Linked DNA regions of Homo sapiens. Changing the gene in region 2 together with the main gene of any one other region gives a genetic interaction. Each region holds a gene or a part of one and is shown on either strand. Other genes may lie near its edges.

Region 1 (3,262 bases), on a different chromosome or scaffold from region 2:
TTGGCACCATTGCTTTGTGAATATAAGGCAATATGAATAGTAGGCTCAGGAAGAAGATGTGGCCAAGGAAATAGATGGATTTATACACCTGTGGAGAGAGAGGCCACTAAGGTAGACAGGCCTGGAGTGTCCTTTGCAACCTTTGAGGTTGCAGTGAGTCCCTCCCAGTCTCACAAGCAGGCCTTCACTTGCCTTAAGCCATTTGTCCCACGTGAAGAGGCAGAAGGCAGTCATGGAGTAACCCATGAAGAGCCAGTGGATGGTCTGTTGCACCAAATAGTAGAAGGGCTGGAGGACAGTAATGGCGGCCAGCTTGCTCAGGGTGGGGCTCTCTTGAATGAGCCTGGCAGCCTGGGGAGGGAGGAGGAGCTCATCAGCATCTTGTCCCTTATATTCCCCTTCACCCCCACCCTGGAGGCCTACCTGTCTTTCCACAATAACAATGAGGAATTCCATCTGGAAGCAGACCAGGTATCCTGAGTGCAGGCCGTGCCAGAGGGCCAGGAATAGCAACGAGAGACCCTGAGAGAGTTCTTTATTTCCAAGGAACTTGAGTCGTTTGAAGATGTAGCTGGAGAAAAGGGTGGGTGGGGCGACCCTCAAACTGACTGGTCCTTGCATCCCGCCACCTGCCTCTGGGTCCTCACCCTGAGGATTGGATTGGAGTGCTGGTGGGTTCCCACGTGTAGCCCCCAGAGGGTACAGGAGGCAGTGCTGACTGATTACTTTTAGAGATGGAAAGCAGACCCAAGGCGGAGCTGGAGACCGTGTGCGCACGAGCCACTTGGTTCAGCAGCAGTGACTGAGGCTGATGCTGAGATCAGTGGTGAACCAGACACTCTACTCAAGCTGCCCACACTCTAGTGGTGGGGACAAACAAGTAAAGCTGTTGATAAACAGGGCAGTGGAGGACATAAGTCCATTGGCAGAGCTGGAGTAACACCCAGGTCTTAACGCACTTTTATATCTTGCCTTTTTTTCAAATATGACAGTAATGGTTTTTTTGGGAGGGGGGTATAGGTGGGGGTCAAAGTCAGTGTGAGCGACAGGGGGTTCTGCCCAGATGGGAAAGACGCATAGGGGTGACATGGTACACCCCTGCCCTCCAATCTGGGAAGACAGTGGAAGGAAGGAACCAGGGTCCAGGCTCCCCACCAGCAGCTCACCGGGCCACCCAGGCGTTGGTGTTGATGTTGAATGAGGCAATGGTGCCAGTGAAGCGGGGGTTTGTTTCAAAGAGCCACACCTTCATGTTGGCACAGGCATCCCACTTTGCCTTGCCCTTTTCTTCAAAGCCATTGAAGCCCAGGCCCGTCAAAATGCATACTCCTTCCTGAGAGGGAATAGCTCAGTTAGGGCTCTTGCCACTCCCCATACTGGCCCCCATGGCTTGTCTAAATAGGACCTTGTTTCAACTTTTCTACTTACTGTGACCAGCCAACAGGTGACATATTTGTACAGCACAAACTTGCCCCAGATCAGCATGTACATGCAGCGGAACCAGAAGGGGTGGTTCTTGAGGGAAGAAAGCACAGTGCATTAGGGATATCACATGACTAGGCAGTTTCTCTCAGCACTCTTCCTTTTCACACTTGTGGCTGGCTACTTCATACCTGCCTGAGTCCTGCTGCCAGATGCCCTCAATAGTCTGGCCTGATTGCCTTCACAATAGGCAGAGAGGAATAAGCAGAGGGCCTGGAGAATATTCATTCGCCTTTCCCTTGGAGAGCCTCAAGGGCAGCACTGTATTTAACTTCTCTACTGTTTGCCTTCGTTGGCAAAGTGTTTGGAATGAGCATTTGGAATGTTAAGTACAGAGGGGCCCATATTGGATTTTAATTTAAGGAGAGAAACCTGCCCAGAATTACTGAACTGTTTTCAAGCCTTTCAGCTGGGCAGGAGCAAAAGCCAGCACTTCCCCCCTTCCCTTGGTTTCTGAATTCCCTAGAAGTGCCCAAATGTATCAGTCAAGAGAAGAAAATAGGATGGAGAATCAGAAGCTGCTGTGCTCTGAGGGGTCACGTGGATGTGATAAGGCAAGCTAGGAGCGGCTCCTAGAGAAGGCAACGGGTGCTAAATGTGCACCTGGCACAGCCCTGTGCCCGCGAAGGTTGTTCAGTGCTGGCTGATGAACATGTCCCAGCACGGCTGGCATTGACAACTCACAGATCTAGAGCAAAACCAACATGCACTTGTAGATGATATTTCCTACTTCTCTGCTATCTGTAGGGATCCTTGCCTGTCCATTTTCTAGCTCTGGTGCAGTCATGCTGCTGCTGCTTTAGTAGACACTCACGTCATAGTCTTCAGTGAGGAGATAGTCTTCTGTGATGTGGGGGCTGAGCAGTGTGTAGCCCACTAGGTAGAAAAGGCCCAGACTCAGGCGCTTGAGAGCAGGAATGATGCTGGAAAGGAACGAGTGAAGTTCCTGGTCACAGAGAGCAGAGACTATTCCCTTCACCCTCTGACCTTCAGTTATGGAGAGGAGTGTTTAGGGGTGTGGTTGTCTACCTGGAATGGGATGAGAAGCTCTGCTGCCCAAAGTGTTTCCTGTTTCAGGGAAAGATTTCTATGGCTGGCTATGAGGAATGGGGACTGCAAACCTCTTAAGAGTTGTAGGAAAGTCAGGGCAGCAGACAGTGGACCAGTCTTGTGTTTACCCCTCAGGGATGCTACTGATCTCAAGGTCTTGCCAGGTCTCACAATCTCCATTGGGACTGAAAACCCAGTGGAGGTAAGATAATAAAAATAACCACTTTGAATCTGCTCCTTCATTTCTTGGTTGAATTGATGCTGAAACACAGGATGGACAAGTTCTCAGTGAAGGAATTCTTCTGGCAATTAAACTTTTTTTTTTTTTTTTTTTTTACCATTTTAATTTTTATTTTCTAGAGTCAGGGCCTTGCTCTGCCACTCCGGCTAGAGTACAGAGGCATAGTCATTGCTCGCTGTGGCCTTGAACTCCTGGGCTCAAGCGATCCCCTTGCCTTGGCCACCTGAGTAGCTGGGACTATAGGCATGTACCACCTTGCCTGGATAATTTTTTTTTGTAGAGATGGGGTCTCACTATGTTGCCCAGGCTGGTCTTGAACTCCTGGCCTCCAGTGATCCTCCTGCCTTGGCCTCCCAGAGCGTTGGCATTACAGGCATGAGCCACTGTGCCCTCCTGCATTTCCTACTGATAAATATTTTTGAGACAGGATTTTGCTATGTTGCCCAGAATGGAGTGCAGTGGTGTGATCAAAGCTCACTGCAGCCTTGA
Region 2 (4,187 bases):
TTTCTAAAATATGGAGTACAATGTAAAGCAATGCATTCTTTTTTTAAAAATTTATTGTTATTTTGAAAAATTTTTGTAGAGATGAGGTCTCACTGCCTTGCCCATAGCTGGTCTTGAACTCCTGGGCTAAAGCGATCCTCCTACCTCGGGCTCCCAAAGTGCTGGGATTACAGGCGTGAGCCACTGCGCCCAGCCGCATTCTTGTTTTCATCTGTGAAATACGTTTTTAAGGTAAATACTTAAAGTTGATGGAGACACCTGGTCTACTTAAGCTCTCATTCAGAACACACTGCCTTGTGCTTTTAAAAAAATTAAATGGATAATCTAAATTGGCAGCTACCAATTAATTTATATCCATAGTTGCTAAAAAATGTTAGTGTAAGTTCATTTTTATTAGTCGCATCATTTTGAGTTTTAAACTATTTCACATGCAGTAAAATTTATACCTCTTATGGGTTTTGTCAAACAGTGGTTTAGTCACCAACACAATCACGGTATAGAAGCTCTCAAGCTCCTTTTCAGTCACCCCCTTCCTCCAGCCCTTTGCCCTGGTCGCCACTGATCAGTATTCTCTCCTTTTAAAAACACTTATTATTTGGAAATAATTATAGACACAGGAAATTGCAAAAATACTACAGCACCTAGAGTCCCGTGTACCTATCACCTAGTTTCCTCCAATGGTGACATCTTACACAACTGTAGTACAAGATCAAAAAACTATGTCATGTAGTTTGAAGGCAGGTTTTCCTTTCACTTCTTCGCCTGCATTTTCTCCTTTCATTTCCAACAAATTTAACTCTGTTGTTAGAAGGAGCAGATGCTAGTTTTCTTTCAGATGTCTGCTATTTCAGTTCGATTACCCCTGTTACTCCTACATTTTTTCTAGTCTTTATCCCCATCGTTTCGCCCCAATTTAATTTTGCTGCTAGTTTTTTTTTTTTCTCCTCTGGGATATGTGCCACAGATGGTACTATTGTCAATATTCGAATTCCTAACTTCTCCCTCCATCCGTAAGTTTTCAAGGGGTAGCCGTGCTTGTGCTTAATTGTGGTGTTTACAGGACTTTTTGTAGCGTAAGCATGCTGGCATGGTTCCCCAACCTCTTAGGGGGATGCTAGTAACCCGCTCCCCCGTCAACGAGCCGCCTTTGTGCTCCGCGGAGGGCACCGCCTGCGTTGGGTTGGAGGTGGGGGTTGGCGGGGGAGAGCTGCCCGCCAGGCGAGGGGCGGGGCCTTGGCGGGGGTGGTCGCGGGCGGCGGGGAGGTCTCGCTTCCCTCCTCTCCACCCGCTCCCAGTCCCGGCCTGGGTCTCAGCCCCGCCCTGCCCAGAGCGCGCGGCCGATCACGTCACCGGCCTGCGCTAGGCGGCCCCCACGGCGCGGGAAGGCGCAGTGCGCACGCTCCGACTCGGCCGTGGCGGACCTGACTGAAGGAGGCCGCGGACCTGACTGAAGGAGGCCACGGCCACTTCTGGTTGGCCTCGGGGCGCGCTGGCTCGGCTCTTCCTCCGCCCTCGAGGCCCCCGCAGTCCCATCATTCAGTTCCGTAGGGTCACCGGCGCGGCAGTGGCCTCGCAGGGCGCTGGGTCCCTCTCCCCAGCTCTCCTCCCCCTGGCCCCGTCGCCCCGCCCTCGCCGGGCTGGGCTGCGGGGTCAGGGGCCGAGCGGAGAGGGGTGAGTATTCCCCACAGCCCTTGCCGGTTGTCTCCTCCCGGCTCTGCTTCCCACACGGTCCTTGCCCCACTCCTAGGACAGGGAGGAAGGGCACGCGCGGGTAGGCGGGAAACAGCCCAGTCCTGAACAAAAGGCCGGGGAAGCGGGTCCCCGCCGGTAACTGCAGGCCTGTGCTGGCCGCCGCGAGCGGGGAAGGGCGAGGACACTCCCTCCTCGGGGACCCGGTCCCCGTCGCGCACACGGTGTCACCAGCACACCTGGCCCAGTACCCAAAGCACCCTCGAAGTGGGTAGTAACTACTTTGTGTTTAAAATCCACATACTGATAGCAAATCTTTGGTTGAAACAGTATTAAATTACTGGGGCTTCCAGTGGCTGAGTCCAACTTAATTTGAAGTTTCAGATTAAGTATCAGGAGGAATAACTTGATATTTAGAGCCAACAGGTCTTTCTTTTTTTTTTAAACCTCCCAAAAAACCTATAAAATCAAGAATTGGCGGGGAGGACCGGAGAATGATAAAGGAATAGTTGACTGATTTATAGAAACTTTTAGTGGCGGTAAAAATTACAAAAGTATTGGAAATAAGGCAAAAGGACAGCATGTTTTTTTCAGAGTCAAAATGGAGCCTAACAGGCCCACCTGAAGATGATTTAGATGTCTAGGGGACTATATTTTGTTTGGCATGATGATATTGATTAGGGCCTAGGCTTTGTAGTTAACATCTTTTTCATTAATGGAGATGCAAATTATTTCTGAGTGGGAGAGAAAAAAATACAGTACTCCTAAAGGTTGTAGTTTTAGTGCCTTGTAGGATATTAGCCATTTTTCTTTTCTTTTTTTTGAGACAGAGTCTTGCTCTGTCGCCCAGGCTGGAGTGCAGTGGCACGATCTCGGCTCACTGCAACCTCTGCCTCTCGGGTTAAAGCAATTCTCCTGCCTCAGCCTCCCGAGTTGCTGGGACTACAGGTGCCCGCCACCACGCTCAGCTAATTTTTGTAAGTTTAGTAGAGACGGGGTTTCACCATATTGGCCAGGCTGGTCCGGAACTCCTGATTTTGTGATCCGCCTGCCTCGGCCTCCCAAAGTACTGGGATCACAGGCGTCAGCCACCGCGCCCGGCCAATATTAACCATTTTTCTGTCTAACCTATCAAACTTACCATCCTTTCTTCAGTGTTTATGCTCAGTTCCTGAAATGCTTTTGAGCACACTAAGCCATTCAGCTTGTTCCATTGTGAGTTTAATAAATCTTTGTCACAGGTTCATTTTGAGTCATATTTATAACTTTTGTTATTGGACAATGGTCTCTATTCTTTAGTGGCAAAAACAAGTTTATGCTTCTCAGGATGGAAGGACATAGGCCCTGTGTGGTACTCAAATACATCTTAGGACTCCAAGTAGAATCCTTTCTCATTGCTTCAGAAAGGTTAAACAGTGACCAGAGGAAATGTTACAGAACTTTGACCAAAAAATAAATCCTGAGTATTGAGAAATTAAAATTAAAGTCTTGCAAATTGCAGAGTTTAAAAATTGTTATTGATATTTTAAATTGAAGAAATTAGTGGAAATAGTAGTTCTAAATTGCATACATTTGAATGTGGAGTGTTAAAAGATTATTTCCCTTGTCTCCTGTTTTATTTAGGATAAGGTTAACTGAGATTTTGGTACATGGTGGGCCATTCAAGTTATGTATAATGTTTTGTGACAAACTACATGTCGACAGTAGTTCCTGATGCCTAATACATTTCTGAGAAAGGTAAAGCAGCCCTTTAGGAAAAACAAGGAGAGTAAAGCTTACAGAAGATTTCTTAAGATGGGCTTGATTTGATTATCTTTGAAACCTAGAGATGTGTTTGGGACCCAGGAGGTTGTGTTTGAATCATAAATATAATCAGGGAACCTTAAGAAAAAAAAAGCCATGGAGATCATTTGGTGATTATCTATTGAAAACAAATGTTTTCAGGGGACAAGCAGCCTGAGTATAATAAAGCAATTAGAAAGTTGGGGAATGGAGAATAGGAGAATAAGCTGTACCTGAAGGAATCTTAATTAGGGAATGGTTGCTGAAAACTGCAGAGACAAGACTTCTCTAATGTGCTTACCTGATCACATAGTTTTATAGGATCCAGGAAGAGGGCTTAGTAATAGGAGTGTAGCTTTGAAGCTAGGGTTATTTCATATCACTGTCATGTAACATCTTTCTGAGAAAACCTTTTTATCATCTCTTCTGAGCTCAAGAACCTACACTGGTTTCCTATTGCCAATTGTTTTAAATGGAATCTCCTTTGGGTTTTTTGGTTTCTTCTTTTGGTTTTTTAAGAAGTGGGGTCTCTAAGTTGCCCAGGCTGGAGTGCAGTGGCTATTTAGAGGCACAATTAGAAGGCACTACACAGCCGTGACTCCTGGCTCAAGCAGCCCTCCTGCCTCAGCCTCCTGAGTAGTGAGGACTAAAGGCGAGAGCTATGTCTCCAAGCTTCCTTTGAGTTTTAAGACTGTAAACTTCCTGCACCCTGTCCC
Region 3 (3,500 bases), on a different chromosome or scaffold from region 2:
TTTAATTGGATGAAATCTCAGCTTTGTTTAGTAGAATAAATGCTGAAGAATAGCCAAAGAAGTATTAAAAAAAAAACAGTGATACTTGGGAGGGCATTTGCCTCACCACATATCAGAAGATCCTATAACACTACTTTTAGCCAATCAATATGGTGTTGCTATAGGACCAAACAAATAGATTAGTGGACCAGAACACAGAATCCAGAAAAAGATCTCAGGATATAAGGCGATTTAATATATGACCTCAGGTGCTGTTCCAGTGGAAAAAAATCTATTATTTATTTGTAATTAATTGTATGTTACTTAAATAATTCTCAAGAGAATTAGACACTGAAGGCAGATAGGACAAGAGTATGTCATTAAGAAGGTTGGGAAGTGTTGAGATTGGACAAAGACCTATTCCTCTTTTTTTTGAGAGGGTTTCACCCTTGTCGCCCAGGCTTGAGAGCATTGGCGTGATCTTGGCTCACTGCAACCTCCATCTCCTGAGTTCAAGTGATTCTTCTGCCTCAGCCTCCCAAGTAGCTGGGATTACAGGCGCCGGCCACCATGCCCAGCTAATTTTTGTATTTTTAGTAGAGATGAGGTTTTACCATGTTGGCCAGGGTGGTCTCAAACTTCTGATCTCAGGTGATCCACCCGCCTCAGCCTCCCAAAGTGCTGGGATTACAGGCGTGAGCCACTGCACCTGGCCTCCTTTTTTTTTTAATTGACAGATGAAATTGTATGTAGTTGTGTATGACATGATGTTTTGAAGTATATATATGTTGTGGAATGACTAAATCTAGCTAATTAGCATAGCATGGTCTCACATAATTAGGATTTCTGTGGTTTGAACGCTTTATATCTCTTAGCATTTTTCAGGAATATAATACATTGTTATGAACCATAATCACCATGTTGTACAAGAGATGGATCTTGCAAAGGGAGGACTCTATTATTGAATGAGTAGTGCTGGGGTAGCCAGCTATGTGGAAGAAGGTAAAATTGGACCCCTTGCCTAGATGTAAAAAATAAATTCCAGGTGAATTCAGTACTTAAACACAAAAGGTAAAAATAGAAAACTCTTGTAAGGAAATATAGGAGGACATTCTAGGAATGGAGAAGACCCAATTAAGACTGGAAACTGGCTGGGCATGGTGGCTCAAGCCTGTAATCCCAGCACTCTGGGAGGCCAAGGTGGGTGGATCACCTGAGGTCTGGAGTTCAAGACCAGCCTGGCCAACATGGCAAAACCCTGTCTCTACTAAAAATACAAAAATTAGCCGGGCATGGTGATGCACACCTGTAATCCCAGCTACTCAAGAGCCTGAGGCAGGAGAATCGCTCCAACCCAGGAGGCAGAGGTTGCAGTGAGCCAAGATCGCACCACTGCACTCTAGCCTGGGCAACAGAGTGAGACTCTGTCTAAAAAAAAAAAAAAAAAGTATATGTTCAAGGATGCTTATTGCAAGCATTGTTTATAGTGGTAAAAAACCAAAAGCCAAAAAAATACTCATTAACAGAGGCTGGGTGAATGAATCTTGCAGTAAATATTATGCAGCTACAAAAAAATAATGCATCAGTGCTATGCAAGTTAACTTTCATGAGTAGTTGATTGAAACAAGCAAAATAAGGAGAAGTGTCAGTTTTGTAAAACAAATGGACTCAATAAAAAATATCATAGAGGTATACATGTGATTGAGTTATAACTGATTGTAATGATTATGTGAGCATGGAGGAAATATACAGATGACATAATGGTTTGTTGAATGTTAAAATGGATTTCTTGGGGATGGAAGAATGGAGTGGGATGAAAAGAGGGGCCTGGGTGCAGTGACTCACGCCTGTAATCCCAGCACTTTGGGAGGCGGAGGAGGGCAGATCACTTGAGGTCAGGAGTTCGAGACCACCCTGGCCAACATGGTGAAACCCCCTCTCTACTAAAAATACAAAAATTAGCCGGGCATCGTGGCAGGTGCCTGTAATCCCGGCTACTCAGGAGGCTGAGGCAGGGGAATTGCTTGAATCTGGGAGGTGGAGGTTGCAGTGAGCCAAGATCACGCCATCGCACTCCAGCCTGGGTGACAGAGCAAGACTCCATCTCAAAGAAAAAAAAAAGAGGGCAGCTATGTAGAATGTATTAATAATAATAATAAAAAAGACTATTGATACTGTCTACTGCCCTCCCTGGTGGATATGAAACAGTCATATGTAAAGTTACGTGTGTGTATATGTATCAAGAAATAGCATAAAACAGGGAGATGTTTCCAAGAGCAGCAGTGTATGATGGTCACTCTGACAGGGCTGAACTGTTTTAAGTACAGCAGGGGGTGAGTGTAGAAGAGCTCTCAGATGGGGACTGTTCCCCAGAGTGAAGTCAGGTTCTGAAGGAGGCTGGAGGTTTCAGCAGAGGGCAAGGTCTCCTGGCAGCCTCATGGCTGGATAGGGAAGTTGGGGAAAGGCGAGTCTCAGCCTTTGGATGGCATCCAAGGCTGGAATCCAGGAAATAGAGATGAGGGTCCTAGGGAGAAAGGAGCCTGGGCAGCTGAATCTAGTCACGGTGCTTCAATCGAGGAATTGCCTGGAGGCTCAACGGTGCCCTATGGCAAAGGCTCACTATGTTCTCCTCGCCCAAGATCAGAACCAGGTCCCCGGGGATTGCCCACAGGTAGGTGGAGATGACAGGTAGGTAGAACTGGAGTAAGGGCTGAGAACAGACAGTGCCGGAATATATGTTTTTGTGCTCTGTCACAACATTGTCCAGAGAATATAACTGCAGGGGGAAGTATTTTGCAAACCGGACCTGAAGGCTCTTGAGTTTCTGTTGGTGAACAGTTTGCTGAAACAGTGACTTTTCTTTCCTCTCCCTCCCTTCCCTGTTCCCCAGCTGGATGTGTGGAATCTGGTGAAAATGTAATGAATACCACTTATGTTTTCTCCAGGAAGAATCTTAAAAGGTATGCAGTCAAGGAAATGTTTGAAATGTTTACATTTTTTTTAGACGGAGTTTCGCTCTTGTTGCCCAGGCTGGAGTGCAATGGTGCGATCTCTGCTCACTGCAACCTCTGCCTCCCGGGTTCAAGTGATTCTCCTGCCTCAGCCTCTTGAGTAGGTGGGATTACAGGTGCCCGCCACCACTCCTAGTTAATTTTTGTATTTTTAGTAGAGATGGGGTTGCACCATGTTGGCCAGGTTGGTTTCAAACTGCTGACCTCAAGTGGTCCGCTTGCCTCGGCCTCCCAAAGTGCTGGGAATACAGGCATGAGTCATTGCACCCGGCTTGTATTTTTTTTTTTTTTTTTTTTTTAGTAGAGATGGGGTTTCGTCATGTTGGCCAGGCTGGTCTTGAACTCCTGACCTCAGGTGATCCGCCTGCCTCCTCCTCCCAAAGTGCTGGGTTTATAGGTGTGAGCCACCGCGCCCTGCCAAAATGTTTACCTTTTATTTTTGCTTTTGCTTAGTCACAGTGCCTTTTCCTAACACTGCAATTAATCCATTAGGCCCATCGCTCATCTTCC
Region 4 (3,500 bases), on a different chromosome or scaffold from region 2:
AACATTAACTGGATTAAGCAAAGAGAGAGAATTTACTGGCTTTTTTACTGTAGAGTCCAGATAGTTTTAGCCACCTGCATAGCTGGATCAGGAATTCACATAAAATTAAGAATTGGTTTCTGTCTCTCACTCTTTGCTACTTTAGTGACTGCCCCACCCCAGACCCCCAGCACATTTCCCAGTAGTTTCAGGCTTACATAATTCCACCTTCTCTTTCCCAACAGTTCTTTTTTCTTTTTTTTTTTTTTTTGAGACAGAGTCTTGTACTGTCGCCCGGACTGGAGTGCAGTGGTGCAATCTTGGCTCACTGCAATCTCCGCTTCCCGGGTTCAAGCGATTCTCCTGCCTCAGCCTCCCAAGTAGATGGGACTACAGGCGCCTGCCACCACGCCCGGCTAATTTTTTGTATTTTTAGTAGAGAGGGGGTTTCACTGTGTTAGCCAGGATGGTCTCGATCTCCTGACCTCGTGATCTGCCCGCCTCTGCCTCCCAAAGTGCTGGGATTACAGGCGTGAGCCACCACGTCTGGCCCCCAATAATTCTTATAAAAGTCCTGGAATTGAATCTCATTGGCCTGATTTGGGTCGCACATCTATTTCTGAATCAGTCATTGCAGACTTGGGGATAGAATATGTTAATGGCTACAGTGGATCACGTGTTCACTCTTGGAGCTGCAGCAGAGGGAGCCAGCTCCATGTGGATTGAGGACAAAGGAATAATTCCATAAAAAACAGTGGCATCTTTTGTTGTTGTTGTTCTTTGAGACAGAGTCTCACGCTGTCACCCAGGCTGGAGTGCAGTGGCGCAGTCTCGGCTCACTGCAAGCTCCGTCTCCCGGGTTCACGCCATTCTCCTGCCTCAGTCTCCCGAGTAGCTGGGACCACAGGTGCCTGCCACCATGCCCAGCTAATTTTTTGTATTATTAGTATTATTTTTTAGTAGAGACGTGGTTTCACCATGTTAGCCAGGATGGTCTCCATCTCCTGACCTCATGATCCACCCGCCTCGGCCTCCCAAAGTGCTGGGATTACAGGCGTGAGCCACTGCACCCGGCCAAAACAGTGGCATCTTACAAAACTATCTCTCACATGAAGAGAAACCTTCTTGAAGCCCTTAGCAAAGAGCATGGGCACTTTGGAACTAGGGAAGGACCAATTCTTGCTCTTCCTCACACATGCTAATTATAGTCTTGCTTGCTTTCTCCTCTTCCTAGAATGCATCACCAGAATATTCACATGGATCACCTCCTCATTTCTTTCAGATTCTGTTCAAATGTCATCTTACCAGGCTCTCTTGACTTCCCTCTAAAATGGTACCACCCCCAGCCCCTAAATGTCATTTTCTAACCCTATAATTTGCTTTTTTCTCCATAGTGTGTGATATGTTGGTATATATTCTGTGTTCCTCCATGAGAAAAAAGACCTTGTCGTTTTTGTTTACTACTATATTCTAGGTTCCTAGAAAAATTCTTGACATACAGTAGGCATTCAGATATTTATCCCTCAAACAAAGCAATGCATGAATATTAGAAAAATGAAAGGAACAGAGATAAATGACTCTTAAAAGTATGGAGGAACTTTTTTTGGGGAGAAGGAGGGTGGTGTTTGATACTGAGGAGTTAGTAAAATATTCCTATGATATTGCTACTATTCTTTTCACTAGAGGCTTCATATATTATATTTTATTATTACATTTAAGAATCCTTATTAGGTACACTGTTAATTATTAGTTCCAGTGATTGATTTCATCCTGTTCATATGACTGAAAGCAACACTATTCAGTAGAAATACAATGCAAGCGGCTGGGCGTGGTGGGTCTGGCCTGTAATCCCAGCACTTTGGGAGGCTGAGGCGGGCAGATCATCAGGTCAGGAGTTCGAGACCAGCCTGACCAACATGGTAAAACCCCCTCTCTACTGAAAATACAAAAAAATTAGCTGGGCATGGTGGCATGTGCCTGTAATCCAGCTACTTAGGAGGCTGAGGCAGGAGAATCACTTGAACCTGGGAGGCAGAGGTTGCAGTGAGCCGAGATTGTACCACTGTTCTCCAGCTTGGGCGACAGAGCGAGACTCCGTCTCAAAAAAAAAAAAAAAAAAAAGAAATAAATATAATGCAAGCTATAAATTTGTGCCACATAGGTAAGTTAAAATTTTTCTAGTGGCCCCAGAAAATAATGAAAAGAAACAAGTGAAATTAATTTTAATATTACATTTAACTCAACATATCTAAAGTATCATTTCAACATACAGTCGATGTAAAACATTTTTGAGATATATCACATTTTCGTAAAACATGTTTGAAATCAGGTATATATTTTATAATTTACATTACATCTGAATTCGGACTAGCACCAAAAATCACATGTGGCCAGTGGCTACTATATAAGATACCATTGTTTAGAGCATATATGCATCCATGTATTCATGTATTTGATAAATATTTATAGACTAGTGCCAGAAACCATTCGAAAGGCTGGAATTCATAGGTGAAGAGGACAGATGGGCTCTCTGATTTCATGGAGTTTATGTTTTACAGGGAAGAGACAAAAAAATAAGTAAACAATTTCCAAAGAGTTAAGTAGAAAGGAGGTTATTTATATGATGATTGATTTAAATAATATACCCAGAGTAAAGTGAACCAATCTTAAGTATGTATAGCTAGATGAATTTTTTTTAATGTGACAACCACTCAGATCACAAGGCTCCTTCCTGTTCATTAGTAAACAGTTTGAAATTAGAGTTTTTAAAGGGGGGAAGGGATGGGAGGAGAATATAATAATATCTTTTCTACTTTTGATAGGCATGGAAAGGAGGAAATTGTTTTCTGGACTACTGGGCTAGTGGTCAGAGCACTGTTTCCTCTTGGGAAGAAGGAAATTGAGCTTGGAGCCAAATCTATCCTTTGCCTTTGATTCCTCCATTCAACTATAGTAATATATTTTTTAAAAGGCTCTGCTGCCCTCTGGTATCTAAAATGAATTTAAAAAGGTAAATTGGTTCTAGAACTATACCTAATGAAGAGGTCTACTGTTTTAGTAAGGGTTTGTCAATGACAGAGTTAACCACAATATTCCATTCTCTGAGTACACTGTAAGTTCTGCAATGGTTTGATGATATTTCTTAGCTCAATATAAATAATATTAGACTATTTGTGTCAATAGTTTTTTTATGAGTTAATTTATACGTTTCCTTTCAAATTGCAGTTTTAAAAATGGTATTAAGTTTAAAAAAAAGAACATAAATTGTAGGCCAAATATTTTATGTATGAATGCTAATTATCATTTTATCTTTGCAGATTTTGAAATACATGGCCAAATATTTTATGTATGAATGATAATTATCATTTTATCTTTGCAGATTTTGAAAGACATAGCCAATCGATTCCATATGATGAATGGCTCCAAAATACATTTTGTGCCCGGCTGGGATTGTCATGGGTTGCCCATTGAAATAAAAGTATTATCAGAACTTGGTAGAGAAGCTCAGAATCTTTCAGCTA

Evidence for each region. A genetic interaction does not mean that the proteins touch.
Region 1: of ATG10 (region 2) and EMG1, changing one suppresses a phenotype caused by changing the other (phenotypic suppression), as found in Homo sapiens cells (one large-scale study listed by BioGRID).
Region 3: of ATG10 (region 2) and CHAF1B, changing one enhances a phenotype caused by changing the other (phenotypic enhancement), as found in Homo sapiens cells (one large-scale study listed by BioGRID).
Region 4: of ATG10 (region 2) and IARS2, changing one enhances a phenotype caused by changing the other (phenotypic enhancement), as found in Homo sapiens cells (one large-scale study listed by BioGRID).

What each region holds. Positions count from the first base shown.
Region 1 is NC_000012.12:6,977,175-6,980,436, forward strand, and holds the end of EMG1 (ribosomal RNA small subunit methyltransferase NEP1), read left to right. Parts: coding exon of another isoform or gene 1-88; 3' UTR 89-192; coding exon of another isoform or gene 193-351; 3' UTR 352-423; coding exon of another isoform or gene 424-571; 3' UTR 572-1,166; coding exon of another isoform or gene 1,167-1,333; 3' UTR 1,334-1,428; coding exon of another isoform or gene 1,429-1,515; 3' UTR 1,516-2,296; coding exon of another isoform or gene 2,297-2,405; 3' UTR 2,406-2,762; downstream 2,763-3,262. Other genes in the region: LPCAT3 (lysophospholipid acyltransferase 5), read right to left, coding at 1-88, 193-351, 424-571, 1,167-1,333, 1,429-1,515, 2,297-2,405. UniProt on the Homo sapiens protein: S-adenosyl-L-methionine-dependent pseudouridine N(1)-methyltransferase that methylates pseudouridine at position 1248 (Psi1248) in 18S rRNA.
Region 2 is NC_000005.10:81,970,636-81,974,822, forward strand, and holds the start of ATG10 (ubiquitin-like-conjugating enzyme ATG10), read left to right. Parts: upstream 1-1,387; 5' UTR 1,388-1,671; exon of another isoform or gene 1,672-1,956; intron 1,957-1,973; exon of another isoform or gene 1,974-3,426; intron 3,427-4,187. UniProt on the Homo sapiens protein: E2-like enzyme involved in autophagy. Acts as an E2-like enzyme that catalyzes the conjugation of ATG12 to ATG5. ATG12 conjugation to ATG5 is required for autophagy. Likely serves as an ATG5-recognition molecule. Not involved in ATG12 conjugation to ATG3.
Region 3 is NC_000021.9:36,405,892-36,409,391, forward strand, and holds part of CHAF1B (chromatin assembly factor 1 subunit B), read left to right. Parts: intron 1-2,869; coding exon 2,870-2,939; intron 2,940-3,482; coding exon 3,483-3,500. UniProt on the Homo sapiens protein: Acts as a component of the histone chaperone complex chromatin assembly factor 1 (CAF-1), which assembles histone octamers onto DNA during replication and repair.
Region 4 is NC_000001.11:220,097,132-220,100,631, forward strand, and holds part of IARS2 (isoleucine--tRNA ligase, mitochondrial precursor), read left to right. Parts: intron 1-3,358; coding exon 3,359-3,500.